Linked DNA regions of Homo sapiens. The protein of the gene in region 1 purifies or fractionates together with the protein of each later gene. This does not show direct contact. Each region holds a gene or a part of one and is shown in the gene's direction. Other genes may lie near its edges.

The links. The genes of interacting proteins can lie anywhere in the genome.
Region 2: the proteins of TBC1D22B (region 1) and CASP14 purify together in Homo sapiens (affinity purification with mass spectrometry; 2 studies listed by BioGRID and IntAct, with this or other methods). This does not show direct contact.
Region 3: the proteins of TBC1D22B (region 1) and SULT2B1 purify together in Homo sapiens (affinity purification with mass spectrometry; 2 studies listed by BioGRID and IntAct, with this or other methods). This does not show direct contact.
Region 4: the proteins of TBC1D22B (region 1) and CTSH purify together in Homo sapiens (affinity purification with mass spectrometry; 2 studies listed by BioGRID and IntAct, with this or other methods). This does not show direct contact.

Annotation. Positions count from the first base shown.
Region 1 is NC_000006.12:37,263,330-37,268,545, forward strand, and holds part of TBC1D22B (TBC1 domain family member 22B), read left to right. Parts: intron 1-5,216. UniProt on the Homo sapiens protein: May act as a GTPase-activating protein for Rab family protein(s).
Region 2 is NC_000019.10:15,051,655-15,056,051, forward strand, and holds part of CASP14 (caspase-14 precursor), read left to right. Parts: intron 1-551; 5' UTR 552-597; coding exon 598-624; intron 625-1,827; coding exon 1,828-1,977; intron 1,978-2,078; coding exon 2,079-2,304; intron 2,305-3,503; coding exon 3,504-3,620; intron 3,621-3,701; coding exon of another isoform or gene 3,702-3,775; coding exon 3,776-3,879; intron 3,880-4,330; coding exon 4,331-4,397. UniProt on the Homo sapiens protein: Non-apoptotic caspase involved in epidermal differentiation. Is the predominant caspase in epidermal stratum corneum. Seems to play a role in keratinocyte differentiation and is required for cornification.
Region 3 is NC_000019.10:48,557,847-48,562,586, forward strand, and holds part of SULT2B1 (sulfotransferase 2B1), read left to right. Parts: intron 1-4,740. UniProt on the Homo sapiens protein: Sulfotransferase that utilizes 3'-phospho-5'-adenylyl sulfate (PAPS) as sulfonate donor to catalyze the sulfate conjugation. Responsible for the sulfation of cholesterol.
Region 4 is NC_000015.10:78,927,632-78,932,371, reverse strand, and holds part of CTSH (pro-cathepsin H isoform a preproprotein), read left to right. Parts: intron 1-330; exon of another isoform or gene 331-775; coding exon of another isoform or gene 776-865; coding exon 866-921; intron 922-2,878; coding exon 2,879-2,960; intron 2,961-4,590; coding exon 4,591-4,659; intron 4,660-4,740. UniProt on the Homo sapiens protein: Important for the overall degradation of proteins in lysosomes.

The DNA of each region.
Region 1 (5,216 bases):
GGGTGAAAACACATTGTTGAATGCAAAGAGCAAGATGTAGAAAGATATGTGCAATGTGCAGTCTTTTATGTGAAGTTTAAAAACATAAAAAATACTGTGTGTTGTTTATGGATCTGTGAATATATGTAGAGGAATAAAAACAGATGGGAGGAGTTCCCTCCAATTTCAGAATAATTGTTATCTCTTGGGAAGTGAAGAAACAGGACTAGGGACTGCAATTAGGGCATCAGTAGTCTAACACTTTGTTTTTGTTTTGTTTTGTTTTGTTTTTTTGACATGGAGTCTTACTCTGTTGCCAGGCTGGAGTGCAGTGGCCCGATCTCCGCTCACTGCAACTTCCGCCTCCCGGGTTCAAGCGATTCTCCTGCCTTGGCCTCCCGAGTAGCTGGGACTACAGATGCGTGCCACCACACCCAGCTAATTTTCTTGTATTTTCAGTAGAGATGGGGTTTCACCATTTTGGCCAGGATAGTCTTGATCTCCTGACCTCATGACCCACCCACCTTGGCCTCCCAAAGTGCTGGGATTACAGGCGTGAGCCACTATGACCGGCCTAACACTTTTTTTCTTAAATGAAATGTGACAAATGTTAACATTTGTAAATCAGAGTGATGGGTTTGTGGATGTTTATTATATCATTTTCTGTACTTTTCTTTGTGTTTGAAAATGTCAATTAAATGCTTTTTCACTTGTGTTAGAGCAAATGTTTTGTATTTTTTTTTTTTAACTTGTGTTGGAGAGATCAGCCAGTTAGCCATGGAATTAAGTAAAATTTAAAGTAACATGATTTAGAGTCAAAATAAGTCATATTTACAGTGTGATGTTATTTATATAAAGTTTAAAAAACATGCAAAATCATACATTATTTAGGGATACATACATAGAAAATAAAAATATAAAAATGAGTGTGAAAAATGCCAGATCCAATAGAGTGGCTTGCTAGGAAGGGAGGGAGGGGTATGCCAGGGTGTTTTGTTTTGTTTGGTTTTGTTTTGTTTTTGACACGGGGTTTCACTCTTGTTGCCCTGGCTGGAGTGCAATGGCACGATCTCGGCTCACCGCAACCTCTGCCTCCCAGACTCAAGCAATTCTTGTGCCTCAGCGTCCTGAGTAGCTGGGATTACAGATGTGTGCCACCAAGCCCAGCTAATTTTTATTTTTAGTAGAGATGGGGTTTTGCTGTGTTGGCCAGGCCAGTCTCGAACTGCTGGACTCAAGTGATCTGCCTGCCTCGGCCTCTCAAAGTGCAGGGATTACAGTGCCCAGCCCTGATTGTGTCTTATATTATGATCTAAATCTAGTTTATTTTTAAAAAGTAATATAAGCCCTAATTTATGTATGTTAGGGAACTAGAGAAGACATGAGTTAGTAGATGCTGGGGGTAGGGGTATGGAAAGTTTCATGAGGGGTGTAGAATTTGAAGAGAATGTTGCAGGATGGATACAATTTTGAAAAGGGATGTAGAAAATAGAAAAGCATTCCAAGTAGGGAAAAGAGCCTTATTTAATAATGGGTTTAATAAGTTTGGAAGGTGGAGTGGAGATCAGTCTTTCTTAGAGCTGAGTTTGGGTTTGGAAGGAGTAGGTATGGTACAGACAGTGAAAGGTGAATTATAAATGTCAGGAAATTGAGCACCTTAATCATTGGGCTCTTCTGGTCTATCTCCATTTAGTCTCTGTGATCATCTCGGTTTCTCTTTTCTAAATTCTTGCCTGTCTTTTTTAAGCTGCAATAAGCTGATTTATTATACAAAGTGTTCCAGTTTTAGATACATCATGGTTCAGTTCAAGAATATGTTAACAAATTCAATTTGGGCCCTGATACCTTTGCTGATGAAGTCCATCATTTATCTTAGCCTTCCTGGCTATGCCAGCACCTTGGGCTGACAGCTTTAAAAAATAGTCTACTGTGATTTTAAGATTCCTTTCCTAGATGGTAATTGATGGCCTCTGGCCCTTCAGCCTGCACAAATTAGGTTTGCTTTTCTTCTGCATGGGTTACTGGCAGATGGTAATACTTCTTTAAGGTAATACTCTCTTATTTTTCTACCCAGTCACCTTACCTAACCGGCCTGTTGAGATCTTCCTGCAGTTTATCCTCTGATTTTATATTTTATTGTGAGGAGGGCTTGTGGGCTTGAAGAATTCAGGTGTACTCTTAGATTATTTGCAGCTGCTAATGTGCATATCAGTAGCCCTTTGGGTTTTTTTTTTTTTCCCGTGGTCAGTGGGGGTGTCTAACACCCCCTTCCTCTCTCAGCAGAACTTTCCCTTTACTCTTTGATTCCTCTTTTTTTCTCTCTGCCTAGGAAACCCTTTAAACACATCAATTAGTATTGTTTTCAAAGTTTGTATTTCTGTAGTAATATATGTAATAGTTTGCTTACACATTACTTATTAATCTTCCAGAGAGGTTTAGGGAGTAAAGATTCTTATAGCTAAAGAAGTAGGGACTGTATTCATAAATTAAAGATTATATGTAAGATTTCCTCTGAAATCTTAATAGGAATCAATGTGAAAGTGATTGATTTGGCTATATTTTTATTTAAGAGCATCCTTTAGGATCACCTCTGTTATGTGAAACAAGTATTTGGTAAGCTTGTTTCAATTTCTAAATGTTGAGTATGGATTAAATTATAAAAATGGGAGGGAGGAAGAAAATCAACATTTCTTGGGCACTGAGTGTTTGCTGGGTAGTGTTCTAACATTTGCAAATCTACGTCACTTCCTGCTTAACATTAAATTAGCATTACCACCCACCAGGAATTGTGCTAAAGGGCTTTCAACATATCGTCCCACTTAAACCTTCTAACCTTCTCAAGATCGCTTATTTCTTATAAAGGTGATACTTGTACATGATACTAAATCAGAAAGGGTTTGCAGTGAAAACTAAGTCTCTTTGGTGTCCCATCATCTTCCAGTCATCTGGTTCCTATTCCAAACTGCTGCTACCAGTGTCTTTTGTATTCTTTCAGATACTCTGATATTCTTTCAGATACATAGACCTAATCATACATAAAATGCATGTATCTATTTTAAAGATTTTTATAAAAATGGTGTCATACATGTAGTTCTGCATCTTTTTTCAATTAATGTCTGAGTTTATTTCATGTCAGTGAATATAGAACTGCCTCATTCTTTTTTTTTTTTTGAGACGGAGTCTTGCTCTGTCCCCCAAGCTGGAGTGCAGTGGTACAATCTCGGCCCACTGCAACCTCCGCCTCCCCAGCTCAAGCCATTCTCCCGCCTCAGCCTCCTGAGTAGTTGGGATTACAGGTGCCTGCCACCATGCCCGGCTAATTTTTGTATTTTTTAGTAGAGATGGGGTTTCACCATGTTGGCCAGGCTGGTCTTGAACTCCTGAGCTTAGGTGATCTGCCTGCTTTGGCCTCCCCAAGTGCTGGGATTACAGGCGTGAGCCACCGCACCTGGCCAGAACTGCCTCATTCTTTTTAAAAGATATACTGTAATTTATTTAACTACTTTCCTGTTGGTAATTATCCTTTCTATTTTAATAGGTAAGTTAGCTCCTTTATATTTATTGGAATAACTGATATATTTAGTTATTTAGTTTAAGTTCAATTTTTAATATTTTCTTCGTCTTTTTTTTTTTTTTTTTTTTTTTTGAGATAAGGACTTACTCTGTTGCCCAGGCTATAGTGCAGTGACACGATGATAGGTCACTGTAGTCTCAAACTCCTGGGTTCAAGTAATCCTCTCACCTCAGCCTCCCAAGTAGCTAGAAGTACAAGCATGCACCACCACAGTTGGCTAATTTTTAAATTTTTTGTAGGTACAAGGTCTTGCTACGTTGCTCAGGCTGGTCAAACTTCTAGCCTCAAGCAGTTCTCACACCTCAGCATCCCAAAGTCCTGGGATTACAGATGTGAGCTACCATGCTTGCCCTTTTAAAAATATTTTCTTCTTAAAAAAGTCTTTCACTATGTGGACTGTGCTTGCTTTTGAGGGGAGGACATACATATATATATATATATACACACACACATATATAATATATATATACACACATATATAATATATATACACACATATATAATATATATATACACACATATATAATATATATATACACATATAATATATATACACACATATATAATATATATATACACATATATATAATATATATACACTATATATAATATATATACACTATATATATAATATATATATACACTATATATATAATATATATATACACATATATATATACACACACACATATATATATTCTGATAATTTGGAAGATTTATCTTTTTATTTTAGTGATTGTGTTTATAAGTGTAACTTTATACCATATTTCTTCAGACAGTACCTGTTGGCTCCCTACCATGAGTAATGATGAAATTAGTAAGTATATTTCCTCACCCCTCTCTTCCCACCTGCTTCTAGTTGATTATATTATTTTTCTTGGTTTTATTTTCTGTCGTAAAACATCCATATTCGTCTATTAACATTTGCAAATCTACATTAGGATTTAATGTTAAACAGGTAGTGACATAGATTTGCAAATTGAGCTATCTGCTTTAAATATCTTCTGAGCCCTGTCAGTAAAAGATGAAGAAGTCAATGCACTTCATTTGTCCATTTTTTCCTCCTTTTAACATTTGCCAATTATATTACTTTGATGTTCTCTTTGCCTCAAATGTAAGACCTAGTCATAAGGTTGGATCTGTTCAGGGCTCTCCACCAATCCTTTTGCCATGGTTTCTCCATCTCATGATTAGTTGAAGTTTGTTCTCTCACAGCTTCTTCAGACAGGTGTTAAGGAACACATTTTCCCTGAGTTCTTACATGTTGAAAAGTAGTTTTTTTTCACTTTTATACTTAAACAATAGTTTGGCTTGATATATACTTATTCTTGAATCATTTATTCTCATTTTCTTTCTTCTCTCCCTTCTCTTTCCCTTTTCTTTCCAACAGGGTCCAGGCTGGAGTGCAGTGGTGTGCTCACTGCAGCCTGGACCCTCCTGGGGTCAAGCGATCCCCCCGTCTCAGCCTCCCAAGTAGCTGAGGCTACAGACGTGCAGCACCATGCCCAACTAATTTTTTATTTTCTTGTAGAAACAGAGTCTCACTTTGTTGCCCAGGCTGGTTTCGAACTCCTAGGCTCAAGCAGTCATTTTGCCGTGGCCTCCCAAAGTGCTAGGATTACAGTTGTGAGCCATCCCATCAGCTCATTTTCTTTTAATTGTG
Region 2 (4,397 bases), on another chromosome or scaffold:
GACAGACATTCAGACTCAAGGAAGAGCAAGGGAGGTGGATTGACCCCTTCGTATTGGAGACCCAGTGAGATAATATCAAAGTTGCATTCCCCACTTCGATGACATTCTCCTTTTAAACACTCCTCCAAGGCATCTCTTTGAGATGGCTTCCCCAGCCCGTCATCTCCTAGGTAGAAGAGGCAAACACATGGGTCACTTGCCCTGCTCCTCATTCCAGGGCTTTCAGGGGAAGTTCAGTCCACCAGAAGCTGGTGAATGACCCACGGGAGACACAGGAAGTTTTTGGGGGCGGAGTGGGGGACATTGTGGGGTAGGCTCAGCAGTTCTGAAGAAGACATCCAGAAATGGAAGACATCGTGAAATTGTCATTCTAGGGGTGATATATTACTACTTCATGGATTATCATCTATTGCCCAGATCTGTCCACAGACCAAATCCCCACCACTTGAGTGCTATTTGGTCTCAAAAATCCAGATACATAAGCCAGTTTGTCCCCTGAGCCCCTCGGCCTCCCTTTAGAGAACTTTAACCTATCTTCTCTTGACTCCAAGGATCAGACAAGGGTGCTGAGAGCCGGGACTCACAACCAAAGGAGAAATGAGCAATCCGCGGTCTTTGGAAGAGGTAGGCTGGGTGCAGGTTGAGGGGAGGGTGATCATCTGGGGAGAAGGAAGGTGAGGATTTTAATGTTTTGGAAAGAGTGGAGGGACTGAAAAAATCATGATCTGAACTCAGAGCTAGGAGGTACTTTGTAGTCAATCAAACAGCAAAAAAAGACTCAGAGATGGAACCGAAGTTGGGTTGGGTGGTGGGGGCAGTCAAACACAGCTACCTCTGTCTCCAAAGATCAAGTTCTTCTCAACACATTAAAGGTTCTGAGAAGTCCTGCAATAAACAATTTCATGTTGATTTTTTAAAAGATGAAGTTCTTACCACTGGGGTGCTCAGTACGCTGCTTCTGTTCTGGAAAGAACTGTTGACCCCCAATATTCTTCTTCCTCAGACGGGATCTCAGTATTAGCTTCAGAAACTCTGAGACCTCTGCAAGTGAGGAGGTAATAGAGGAATGCTCAGAACACTCTTGGGGAGGATGAGGAGACCTGCAAATCCACAAAATACGACAACTGGAAGGGATCTTCAAAATCACACACACACTCATTGTCTATATTTGGAAACTGAGGCTCAGATGGGAGCAGTGACTTCCCCCAAGTTCATACCAAGCTAGAAAAGAGCTGGACCCCAGGTTGGGTTGCTGTATTTGGGAACTAAAAATAAAGGACACCCAATTCAATTTGAATTTCACATCAACAACAAATAATTATGTAGTATAAGTATATCCCATGCAATATTTGGGATATACTTATACTAAAAAGGTATTTGGTTTTTATTTGAAATTTAAGTGTACCTGAGCATCTTCTATTATACCTGGCAACCCTAAGCCCAAGCCTCTCTTGTTTTGTTTGTTCATTTTTGAGACAGGGTCTCACTTATTGCCCAGGCTGGAGTGCAGTGACAAGATCATAGTTCACTGCAGCCTCAACTTCCCAGGCTCAAGCTATCCTCCCACTTCAGCCTCCAAAGTAGCTGGGACCACAGATGCACAGCAGCACACCCAGCTATATTTTTCATTTTTTGTAGAGACAGAGTCTCACTATGTTGCCCAGGCTGGTCTCGAACTCTTGGGCTCAAGCAATCCTCCCACCTCGGCCTCCCAAAGTGCTGGGATCACAGGCATGAGCCACCACACCCAGCCTGCATGCCTCTTTTGACTACATCTGCTTCTCCTTGAACCTCTCCATGCTGATTTCTGTCTTCTCTTGGCCCCAGGAGAAATATGATATGTCAGGTGCCCGCCTGGCCCTAATACTGTGTGTCACCAAAGCCCGGGAAGGTTCCGAAGAAGACCTGGATGCTCTGGAACACATGTTTCGGCAGCTGAGATTCGAAAGCACCATGAAAAGAGACCCCACTGCCGAGGTATTGGGGTGCCTACTCCAGGCCTGTTTGGGGGAAAGGTACTAGGTTGGAAGTGTAGGCTATGGGGACCCAGCTGAGTCTGGTTCTTCCTCTCACTCCAGCAATTCCAGGAAGAGCTGGAAAAATTCCAGCAGGCCATCGATTCCCGGGAAGATCCCGTCAGTTGTGCCTTCGTGGTACTCATGGCTCACGGGAGGGAAGGCTTCCTCAAGGGAGAAGATGGGGAGATGGTCAAGCTGGAGAATCTCTTCGAGGCCCTGAACAACAAGAACTGCCAGGCCCTGCGAGCTAAGCCCAAGGTGTACATCATACAGGCCTGTCGAGGAGGTGGGGACAGATCCAAGAGCACAGAGTCTGTGGTTTGTTGTTTCTGTTTTGTTTTTTGAGACAGCACCCAGGCTGGAATGCAGTGGCGGAATCTCAACTCACTGCAATCTCCATCTCCCAGGCTCCAGCCGTCCTCCTGCCTCAGCCTCCTGAGTAGCTGAGACTACAGGCTCCCGCCACTATGTCAGGCTAATTTTTGTAGACAGGGTCTGATTATGTTGCCCAGGCTGGTCTCAAACTCCTGAGCTCAAGCAATCCTCCTGCCTCAGCCTCCCACCATGCCCAACCAAGTCTGTGTTTTTATCCAAGCCAGTCCCAGATCCAAAGCCCCAGCTGAAGCCAGGCACCATGGCTCATGCCTGTAATTCCAGTACTTTGGGAGGCCCAGGCGGGAAGATTTTTTGAGGCCAGGAGTTCAAGACTAGCGTCGAGCAATGTAACAAGAACCCAGCTCTATGAAAAATATTAAAGATTAGCCAAGGGCATGGTGGCATGGGCCTGTGGTCCTAGCTACTCAGGAGGCTGAAGTAGGAGGATCACTTGAGCCCAGGAGTTAAGAGGCTGCAGTGAGCTATGATTACACCATTGCACTCCAGCCTGGGCAACAAAGCAAGCCCCTGTCTCTAAAAAGTTAAATTAAATTAAAAAGCCCCACTGCACATGGCATACCACAAAAGCATCCTTTTTTTTTTTTTTTTTTTAGACGGAGTCTTGCTCTGTCACCCAGGCTGGAGTGCGATGGCACAATCTTGGCTCACTGCAACCCCCACCTCCCAGGTTCAAGCAATTCTTCTGCCTCAGCCTCCCAAGTAGCTGGGATTACAGGTGCAAGCCACCATGCCTGGCTAATTTTTGTATTTTTAGTAGAGATGGGATTTGACCATGTTGGTCAGGCTGGTCTCAAACTCCTGACCTCAGGTGATCTGCCTTCCTCAGCCTCCCAAAGTGCTGGGATTACAGGTGTGAGCCACCGTGCCCAGCCCTTACCTTTCTTTTTAAGAGGCGACATCTCGCTCTGTCTCCCAGGCTAGAGTGTAGTGGTGCAATCATGGCTCACTGCAGCCTCAAGCTCCCAGGTTCAAGTGATCCTCCTGCTTCAGCCCCCCAAAACACTGGGAATACAGGTGTGAGCCACCCTGCCCAGCCCCTTTCCTTACCTTTCTCTCTGACTTTGCCTCCTCCTCTTCTTGTTGTTTCAGAACAAAGGGACCCCGGTGAAACAGTAGGTGGAGATGAGATTGTGATGGTCATCAAAGACAGCCCACAAACCATCCCAACATACACAGATGCCTTGCACGTTTATTCCACGGTAGAGGGTATGAGCTCCCAGCTGGCCCAGGGATCCCTCTGCTCTTCCCCCTCTCCTGCCACTCCCAACTCCTGAACCTCTCCTCCAGGACCCACGCCCTTCCAGGATCCCCTCTACCTACCCTCTGAAGCTCCCCCGAACCCACCTCTCTGGAATTCCCAGGATACATCGCCTACCGACATGATCAGAAAGGCTCATGCTTTATCCAGACCCTGGTGGATGTGTTCACGAAGAGGAAAGGACATATCTTGGAACTTCTGACAGAGGTGAGTTGACAAAAGGTAGCTGGGACCACCGCCCAGGCCAAGAAGGGTGCAGGCGGAGGGGGCTGAGCCTCCTCCTAACCCCTCTCCATTTCCCTCAGCTCCAAATCCAAGCCAGATCTCAATACAGAAACTAAGAAGCCCACTTTCCAACAACTTTCCCAAATGCAGGGACTCTTAAAAGCCACAGTATGGGAGATAAATTTCTATAAACAAATCCCCCTTGGATATAAACAATGTTTGGGCAAACTGTTTTCTTTTAATGTTTATATGTTTTTATTGCAAATTATTTAAAAAATGCCCAGCCAAGGATTCCATACAAACTATGGTATAGGAAGAGGCCACAACGGTCTCTCATCTTAGGACAAGAATACCCACCTGCCCCGTTCCCTAACCCTCCCCCCATAAGTCCATGACACTGACTCCTCCAAGCTCACCACACCTGTTGCTGCAGGTGACCCGGCGGATGGCAGAAGCAGAGCTGGTTCAAGAAGGAAAAGCAAGGAAAACGAACCCTGAAA
Region 3 (4,740 bases), on another chromosome or scaffold:
AGGCGGAGGTTGCGGTGAGTCGAGATCGTGTCATTACACTCCAGCCTGGGCAACAAGAGTGAAACTCTGTCTCAAAAAATAATTAAAATTAAAAAAATTAAAAAAAATAAAATCGTAAGAGGAAAACATTTGGCACAGGCGGTAGGCAGGATGGGCTGCTGACCCAGTAGGCTGACAAGCCCAGGATGTTATAATCCCTGTAACATCCTTGCAGTTGTTCTCAACCTGTTGAGTGCTGTCTGTATTACCTCATCTAATCCTTACAGCCGTCGGAGATTAACCCATTTTAACTACTATCATCCCCTGTAAGAGGTGAGGCCCAGAGAGGTTGAGTGACTTGCCCAGGGTCACACAGCTGCCAAGCAGGGCGTAGCCAGGATTTGAACCAGGGAAGCCTGACTGTATCACGCCCTGGATGGGGAACTTGGGGATGAGCAAGACCCGGAAGGAGCGAGATCCGGGAGGGAGACTCAGCCCAGACAGGAGGCGTTAGCAGGCGCTCTGCGGTTCCAGGCGTTTCCTTGCATTCCCTGCGTGCTGGGCTACGGAGAGTGTCAAGGCCAGAGAAGCCACGCCGGCCTTTGGACCTGGGGCGCCTCGGGCAGCCAAGGAGAGCTGCGGTGGCCGCTCCTCCCCGCGCTCTGATCTCGGGAGTCCCTGGCGCCGGCACCTTCTGATCTCTGCCTCTTATTGACGGGGAGGGCGAGGAGGGGCCAGCTCTGGTTTTACAACCCCGGCCCCACCTTCCTTAGGGAGGGCTGAGCCACATGAATGATTTTATGGCCAAAGCCCTGCCAGTCATGAGGCTGCTTTTTCTTTTTTCTTTTCTTTTCTTTTTTTTTTTTTTTTTTTTTTGAGACAGAGTTTCACTCTGGTTGCCCAGGCTGGAGTGCAGTGGCACCATCTCGGCTGACTGCAACAGCCGCCTCCGGGGTTCAAGCGATTCTCCTGCCTCAGCCTCCTGAGTAGCTGGGACTACAGGCGTGCGCCACCACGCCTGGCTAAATTTTTGTATTTTTAGTTGAGACAGGGTTTCACCATATAGGTCAGGCTTGTCTCAAACTCCTGACCTCGGATGATCCACCCGCCTCGTCCTCCCAAAGTGCTGGGATTACAGGTGTGAGCCACCGCGACTGGCCTGAAGCTGCTTTTTCTGAGACGGGCTGATCAAGGGGTTTCAAACAATTAAGAAATAATAAGGCATTGCCTCCCCGCTGGGTGAGATTTGGGCAGGCAGACTAGGGAGAGGGGCTTCGGGGCCAGCACTAGCGGATGCGGGGACTTGGGGAGAAGTGGAAAAAGATGCTCACGGTTCCCTCCTTCTCCACCCAGCCCCTGACGAGGGACTCAGCCTTGAAGAGTGAGGGACAGGATGCGTTTTCCTTTCCACTCGCTCTTTGGGGTGGGGGGAGGCAGTTGTGCCTGGTGGGCCTGTGTACGGACTGGCAGAGGAAAGGTTGGAAGTGGTGATGTTCAGAGTTCAGGACCCATTTGGTTTTGTTTTTTGTTTTGTTTTGTTTTGTTTTGTTTTGTTTTGTTTTGGAGACAGAGTCTTGCTCTGTCGCCCAGGCTGGAGAGCAGTGGCGTGATTTTAGCTCACTGCAACCTCCGCCTCCTGGGTTCAAGCGATTCTCCTGCCTCAGCTTCCCAAGTAGCTGGGATTACAGGCATGTGCCACCATGCCTAGCTAATTTTTGTATTTTTGATAAAGACAGGGTTTCGCCATGCTGGCCAGCTGAGTTCAGGACCCATTTGGAAAGAACTAAGCAGCCCAGTTTGCCACCCAGAGGGTCTGGAGGAGGAACTGTGGGACCCAGTGGGTCACCCATGACATGGAATAAATGCCAGGCTGAGAAGGGAGACCCTCGCCTTGCCCGGAGGCCTGGAGTGGAGGCCCTAAGAGAGGTGTGGCCAGTTACTTACGTGGGGACCAGAGCCCCAAGGATCTGGGAAAGTGGGGACCGTGACACCGCAGGCAAGAAAGCCTGCAGGGGCCAGGTGCCACAGCTCACGCCTGTAATCCCAACACTTTGGGAGGGCAAGGCAGGAGGATTGCTTGAGGCCAGGAGTTCAAGACCAGCCTGGGCAACATAGCAAACCCTCATCTCTCTTTAAAAAAAAAAAAAAAAAATTAAAAAGAAAAGAAGAATGCCCACAGGAAGGCAGTCCTGGGTTCGAATGCCGCCCCTATGGCTCAGGAGCTGGGACCCTCCTGGTAGAAAGGACTGCCCTCAGGGTTGAGCGTCTGTGAAACGGGCAATGACCGGGGAAGGGCCTGACCTGGGCTCGCAGCTGACTCAGCATTTGTGCTGTTTCTCTCTTTCCTCCTTCCCCAGTTCTGAGACCGCTGCTGAGCCAGAAACTCGAATGCTAGCAAGGGAGGGGATGGGTGAGGAATGATAATAATGATGAGCTTCCTGAGCATCTGCCCTGAGCCAGGCCCTGTGCTGAAGGCTGTGTGGGGATGAGCTCACTGAGTCTTCACAACAGCCCTGTGTGGTCCCAGTGTTACAATGCCCATTTTACAGATGGGAAAACTGAGGCCCCACTCATAACCCTCATGCCAGAGAAAGGAATCCAACAGGGGCTTGGAACTGCAGTCAGAGGCTGCCCCTCAGTGGCCATTTCTTCTCGGGGGGACTTGTCACCCTTATGGTTTCCATGACCCTGGCCACCCTCCATAGATATATACCGTGAGCCCATAGGAAAACATTTTCTCGTAGCCACCTTTTTAAAAAAACAAAAGAAACAAGTGAAATTAATTTTAATCACATATCTAATCTATCTGAAATATCATTTCCACATATAGTCAATTTCAAAAACTGTCAATGAGGCTGGGCGTGGTGGCTCATGCCTATAATCCCAGCACTTTGGGAAGCCGAGACGTGTGGATCCCTTGAGGTCAGGAGTTCGAGACCAGCCTGGCCAACATGGTGAAACCCCATCTCTAGTAAATATACAGAAATTAGGACAGCCGTGGTGGCTCACATCTGTAATCCCAGCACTTTGGGAGGCCGAGGTGGGCCTATCATTTGAACCCGGGAGGCAGAGGCTGCAGTGAGCTAAGATCCTGCCATTGCACTCCAGCCTGGGCAACAAGAGCAAAACTCCGTCTCAAAAATAAAAAAAATAAAAATTAGCCAGGTGTGGTGGTGGGCGCCCGTAATCCCAGCTACTCGGGAGGCTGAGGCAGGAGGATTGTTTGAACCCAGGAGACGGAGGTTGCTGTGGGGCTGAGATCGCACCACTGCACTCCAGCCTGGGAGACAGAGCAAGATCTTGTCTCAAAAAAATAAATTCGGGCCCGGTGTGGTGGCTCATGCCTGTAATCCCAGCATTTTGGGAGGCCGAGACAGGCGGATCACCTGAGGTGGGGAGTTCCAGACCAGCCTGACCAACATGGAGAAACCCCGTCCTACTAAAAATAGAAGAGTAGCTGGTCGTGGTGGCACATGCCTGTAATCCCAGCTACTCTGCGAGGCTGAGGCAGGAGACTCGCTTGAACCCGGGAGGCAGAGGTTGCAGTGAGCCGAGATCGTGCCATTGCACTCCAGCCTGGGCAACAAGAGTGAAACACTGTCTCAAAATAAATAAATAAATAGATAGATAAAATAAATAAATTAATTAAGATAAAATAAATAAATAATAAAGGTATGCTGGAAGGGAGAGAGAGAGGAGGTGTTTGAGAGAAAGGAGGAGAGAAAAAAAGTGAAGAGCCCCAGGCGACAGGCGTCGTGCAGGGTGCGGTTCCACGGTGTAGTGGAGCATGCGACATTCAGGGAACAAGCCAAACTGGACAGTGAGAACGGAACACTGGCAGCCCAGCTACAGTGGGACTCGGATGGGCAGGGCCTGCGGTGAGACTGTCAGGCTTCAAGGGACAGAGCCAGGGACCTCGAACCTAACGTGTGTTCCCCATCAGGCAGATGTGGGTGAGATGCTCTACATCCCAGAGCCCCACTCCCCTCTTCTCCAAAATGGGCCTTGGCTGGGTGCAGTGGCTCATGCCTGTAATCACAGCACTTTGGGAGGCTGAGGCAGGTGGATCACCTGAGGTCGGGAGTTCAAGACCAGCCTGGTCAACATGGCAAAAACCCCATGTCTACTAAAAACACAATAATTAGCCGGGCTCATTGCTCACGCCTGCAATCCCAGAACTTTGGGAGGCCAAGGCAGGAGGATCACTTGAGATCAGGAGTTTTGAGATCAGCCTGACCAACATGGCGAAACCCTGTCTCTACTAAAAATACAAAAATTAGGTCAGGTGTGGTGGCTTATGCCTGTAATCCCAACACTTTGGGAGGCTGAGGCGGGCGGATCACCTGAGGTTAGGAGTTCAAGGCCAGCCTGGCTAACATGGTAAAACCCCGTTTCTACTAAAAATACAAAAAATTAGCCAGGCGTGGTGGCACATGCCTGTAATCCCAGCTACTCGGGTGGCTGAGGCAGAAGAATCACTTGAACCCTGGAGGTGGAGGTTGCAGTGAGCTGAGATGGCCATTGCACTCCAGCCTGGGCAACAAGAGCGAAACTCTGTCTCAAAAAAAAAAAAAAATTAGCAAAGCGTGGTGGTGTACACCTGTAATCCCAGCTACTGGGGAGGGTGAGGCAGGAGAATTGCTTGAACCCCGGGAGGTAGGGGTTGCAGTGAGCCGAGATCACACCATTGTACTGCAGCCTGGGTGAAGGAGTGAGACTATGTCTCAAAATAAATACATAAATAGAAATAAAAAATCATAT
Region 4 (4,740 bases), on another chromosome or scaffold:
GTAAGAAATCAGCCACAGGCGACCCCCTGCGGAGGACACCCCATCCTGATGTGGGCCAGGCCTGGGCCTTTGGTTTCCCTGGAGCATTGGCTAAGGGTGCTGTTTCAGGTGGACCCAGATGCCCCAGCCTTGTGGACATCTGGCATGAGAATCTCAATTGATGCTTTTCCCGGGAAGGATCTGAGTTTATTAAGGAACCGGCCCAAGGGCTCATTCCTAGATGGATCTGGGTGGTCCTTAGCTTGACAGCCTGGAGCCTTCCCGGCGGAGGGGTTCAGAAAGGCGGAGCCTGCCTGGTGGGTAGCCAACTAGGAGCTACACCCTTCCCAGCAGCCTCAGTTGTCTTCATGAGGGAAGAGCCGGGACCTATGCATCCATCCCCTCGCCCACAAGAGACGGATGATGCCCCTGAAGGAACTATCCTAGCCCCTGCCTCTGTGGAGAAAGGAGGGACAGTGCACAGCCGGCCTGGTGATGCCATGAGGACCCTGGGTTGTGGACAGGTGGGGGTAGGGTCTCTGGCTGGGCCTGTTTCCCCCATCCTATACACCGCTGTGGGACCCCACACTCTGCATCGTATGGGCACACCTACGGGGCAGGGGTTTGGACCCAACAGCCCTTGCCCCCTCTCACCTTCCCTGGCTGCCCCTGCTTACTGAGCCCCTCCCGACATGTGCCAGCTGCTGGGCTGGCACTGCAGGACATACAGCAACTGTCCCTGCCCTTGGGGAGTTTATAATTTGGTCACCTTGACACAGCACTGACGGGGCCTCAGATGTGGCTCAGCCAGGGAGGCTTAGCGCCTCACGCCAAAGCCTTGACGGCTTCTCAGCTGGCAGGTCACTGGGTTGTGTCCTTCTTCCAGGCGGAACAGCAGCTGGTGGACTGCGCCCAGGACTTCAATAATCACGGCTGCCAAGGGTACGTCTCTGACCAGAAGGGGCCCAAAACTTCCTCATTTCCCACTGACCGCTTCGACAGGATCCAGTGTGTGCTGGGTCTGCCACAGATATAACCCACCACTGCCCTGGGCGATGGCAAAATGGTCTCTGTTGTACAGGGGTGGTCACCTCACATGGCCAGGTCTCATAGCCAGGACAGGGCAGAGCTGGAATCTGAGTCCAGGCCTCTGTCCTCTCTCCACTGTATCACCTGGCTCTCCACAGTGCGGTTGGCCTCACCCGCCACCAAGGCCTCTGGGAGTGTGGCCAAAAGAATTTAATAGAGTGAGCAACACACCATTACACATCATCCTCCAAACCCGAGATCCACACACAGATACAGGGTTGGCCTTTAGATGAACTCACTAAAGTCCCAGCCTCCCAAGCTCATTGCGCCCTGTGAGGGTGAGGTGGCTGTGTGTAAGGGCTGTACCTTGCCTGGACCTGCTTTCCTGGCCCACTGTAAAGCAGGTTGCCAGGAATTTGCTGACATTTCTACAGTGACTCTAGCCCTCCCTTCATGCAGTGCTCTGAGACATTTCTGTGGTCTTTGCTCACCTGGCACATGGTGTGCATAAAGCCAGGCTCTTGGGGTGCCGTGCCTCGACTCCCCTCCACCTCCCTGGGGCACATCCCTCTCCCAGACCCCAGCCCCTCTGAGCTGGCTCTTCCTCCTGCAGGGAGCCGTGCTGCAGCCAAGTCCTGGGGACCCAGGGGTGACGTCGTAGCCTGCTCTCAGATCCACCATCATGCTCAGTGTCCCCTTACTTTTGGTCTGTTTCCACTCCACAGCTTAGAAACCCAACCCATAACAAGAGTCTGACATTTGGGCACTCTGGGGTCCCACCGTTTTTATTTTTTATTTATTTATTTATTTATTTATTTATTTATTTTTTCTTTTTTTGAGATGGAGTCTCGCTCTGTTGCCCAGGCTGGAGTGCAGTGGCGCGATCTCAGCTCACTGCAAGCTCCGCCTCCCGGGTTCACCCCATTCTCCTGCCTCAGCCTCCCAGGGAGCTGGGATTACAGGCGTGCGCCACCACACCTGGCTAATTTTTGTATTTTTAGTAGAGATGGGGGTTTCACCATGTTGGCCAGGCTAGTCTCGAACCCCTGACCTCAGGTGATCCACCCACCTTGGCCTCCCAAAGTGCTGGGATTACAGGTGTGAGCCACCACATCCAGCCTGTTTTTCAAAGGAGTCTATTTGCTTTGGTTCAGGACAGTACTTCCTTTTCTCATTCATACAACAAATATCACAGAGCACCCGCTGTGTGTAGGCCCTGGGGATACAGCGCTCAGCAGAACTGGAAGAGCGGGCATTCTGGCAGGCTCAGAGAGACCACAGTCAAGGCTAGACTAGGTCAGGCGGTGCGGAATGCTATGGAGAGAAACAGAGAAGGGACGGGGATTGCTGGGCAGCTGCTGAGTTTTTGTTTATTCTGGGAGGCCACATGATGTAGAAAAGACCCACTTTTGGAACCACTTCCCAGCTTTAGCTGTGTGGCCCTGGCCAGGTTATTCAGCCTCTTTGCCTCAGCCAGTGACAGCATCCACCACACAGGGTCGACACGAGGGGTCAGGGAGTCATGCCTGGGAAGCACCTGCCCAGGGGCTCGGCTGTGGCGATGACAGTGCTCTGGGCTGATGCTGTTGACCATGGTGTGGGGCTGTGCACTCCTGACAGAGCGGCTGGCCTTAAGGGGTCTCTATCCCACTGAGGCATGTTTGGGCTGGTCCTTGGACTCCGGTGGCCTCATCTGAGTTTGCTGAGTCTTATCCCAAGGCTGGGCCTCTCAGAGACCCCCTCTGCCACTGGGACATGCCCAACCAAGTCCCCAGCCTGCCAGGCCAGATATCTCGCCACGCCAGTCCCCGAGGGCCCCGCCTCTATCAGGACAGCCCCAGGTGGGCTCACCTGTGTGTACTTCTTGCAGGGGTCTCCCCAGCCAGGCTTTCGAGTATATCCTGTACAACAAGGGGATCATGGGTGAAGACACCTACCCCTACCAGGGCAAGGTAACTCCAACAGCCTCCACTCTGTCTTCTTGGCGTACAGCATGCCTAGCTTCACTCCCTCCCCAGCCTTGGAAGACATCCCTTCTCCCCCCACCTCCCTCCCGCCGGAATTCTCACAATTGTCTGTTCTCTCCAAATTCTTCCTTCCCCTCCTCCACCCACCTGAGCCCACTGCTCTCACCAGTCCAGGGGCCTCTTTATCATTCTCACCCCATACCCGCTCTGCGGCACCATCTCTTTCCTTCCCGAGCCAGACTTCTCAGGACCCCTCCTTCCCCCCACCTGCCCCATCTTCCTGGCTCCTCTCCCTCCTGCCACGAGCGCCATCCTCTCGCCTCTGTCCATGCAGTTGGCCTCTTGTGCCAAGGACCCTTTGGGGGCCCACCCCCACCCCTACCCTATCAAGGCTGCTGGGCCTCCCACCATCACCTCCGCCCAGCCTGGCCACAGCCAAGTGCCTTGTCTTTCCCCAAGACCTGTTGCTCCTCCTTTATTTCCCCTCGTGGTGATGAGCAGCACTGGCCTCCCTCAGAATTTCCCAGGTGTCCACAGTCCTGTTGGGCCGGTCCCCCTCTCCACCCCACCCTGCCGCCAGCCTGCTGACCACCACAGACCTCACATGACTCCCTTGGCCCATCTGTGTCGCTGACCACTCAGACCGGGGCCTCCATCCAGACCCCTGAGGGTGGCCTCCCCCAGGCCTCTCAAACCCAGCTCAGACCCCACGCCTGCCTCGATCAGAATGCCGCCGAGGCTCCATGCGGCCTTCGGGAGAAAGCCCAGACTCCAACTCAGTCTCCCTGTCTCTTTTACTCTCCCTTCTTTTTTTTTTTTTTTTTTTTTTTTTGAGACGGAGTCTTGCTCTGTTGCCCAGGCTGGAGTGCAATGGCGCAATCTCGGCTCACTGCAACCTCCGCCTCCCGAGTTCAAGCAGTTATCTGCCTCAGCCTCCTGAGTAGCTGGGAGTACAGGCACCCGCCACCACGCCCAGCTAACTTTTTATATTTTTAGTAGAGACAGGGTTTCACCATCTTGGCCAGACTGGTATTGAACTCCTGGCCTCGTGATCTACCGCCTCGGCCTCCCAAAGTGCTGTGATTACAGGCGTGAGCCACCGTGCCCGGCCAACTCTCCCTTCTTAACCTCACGCCCAGGCCCAGCCACATGCTGGTTCCTAAATGCCAGGTCCTACCCTCCCTCTAGTTCTGTCCCTTGTCCTGCTGCCTTCTCTCCTGCCTTGAAAGGGCTGCGCTTCCCTCCTTGTGACCTTACCCCTGCACCTGCCTCTTGCCAGCATTGTTTTTTGGGCTGAGACTGTCCCCACTCCCCTGCCTCACAGGCTCTGACTCGGCCTCCACTTCTCAGTGAGTTTCCTCAGGCCGGGTGAGGCCCCTCCTCAGGCTCCCACCACACACCATGTGTGCCCACCTCTGCCAAAGCCAGCACAGGACCATCTGCTACCAGACCCTAAGCTCCTTGAGGACAAGGATGCTTTAATTCTCTCTGAAATTATCCCATCCCCCAGGCCCTGGCACATCTTGTTTTGTTTAGTAAATGTTATTGAACTGCGTGGGGAGGCTGAGACTTCGGGTCCATAACCTGTATTTCATGCCCTTTGCATCCTCAACAGGATGGTTATTGCAAGTTCCAACCTGGAAAGGCCATCGGCTTTGTCAAGGATGTAGCCAACATCACAATCGTGAGTGCCGATCCCCCTCTGGGATGGGGAATGTGTCCTGATGAGGAGGCCTCTCTCATGCTGTCGGATAGCCAGTGGGCC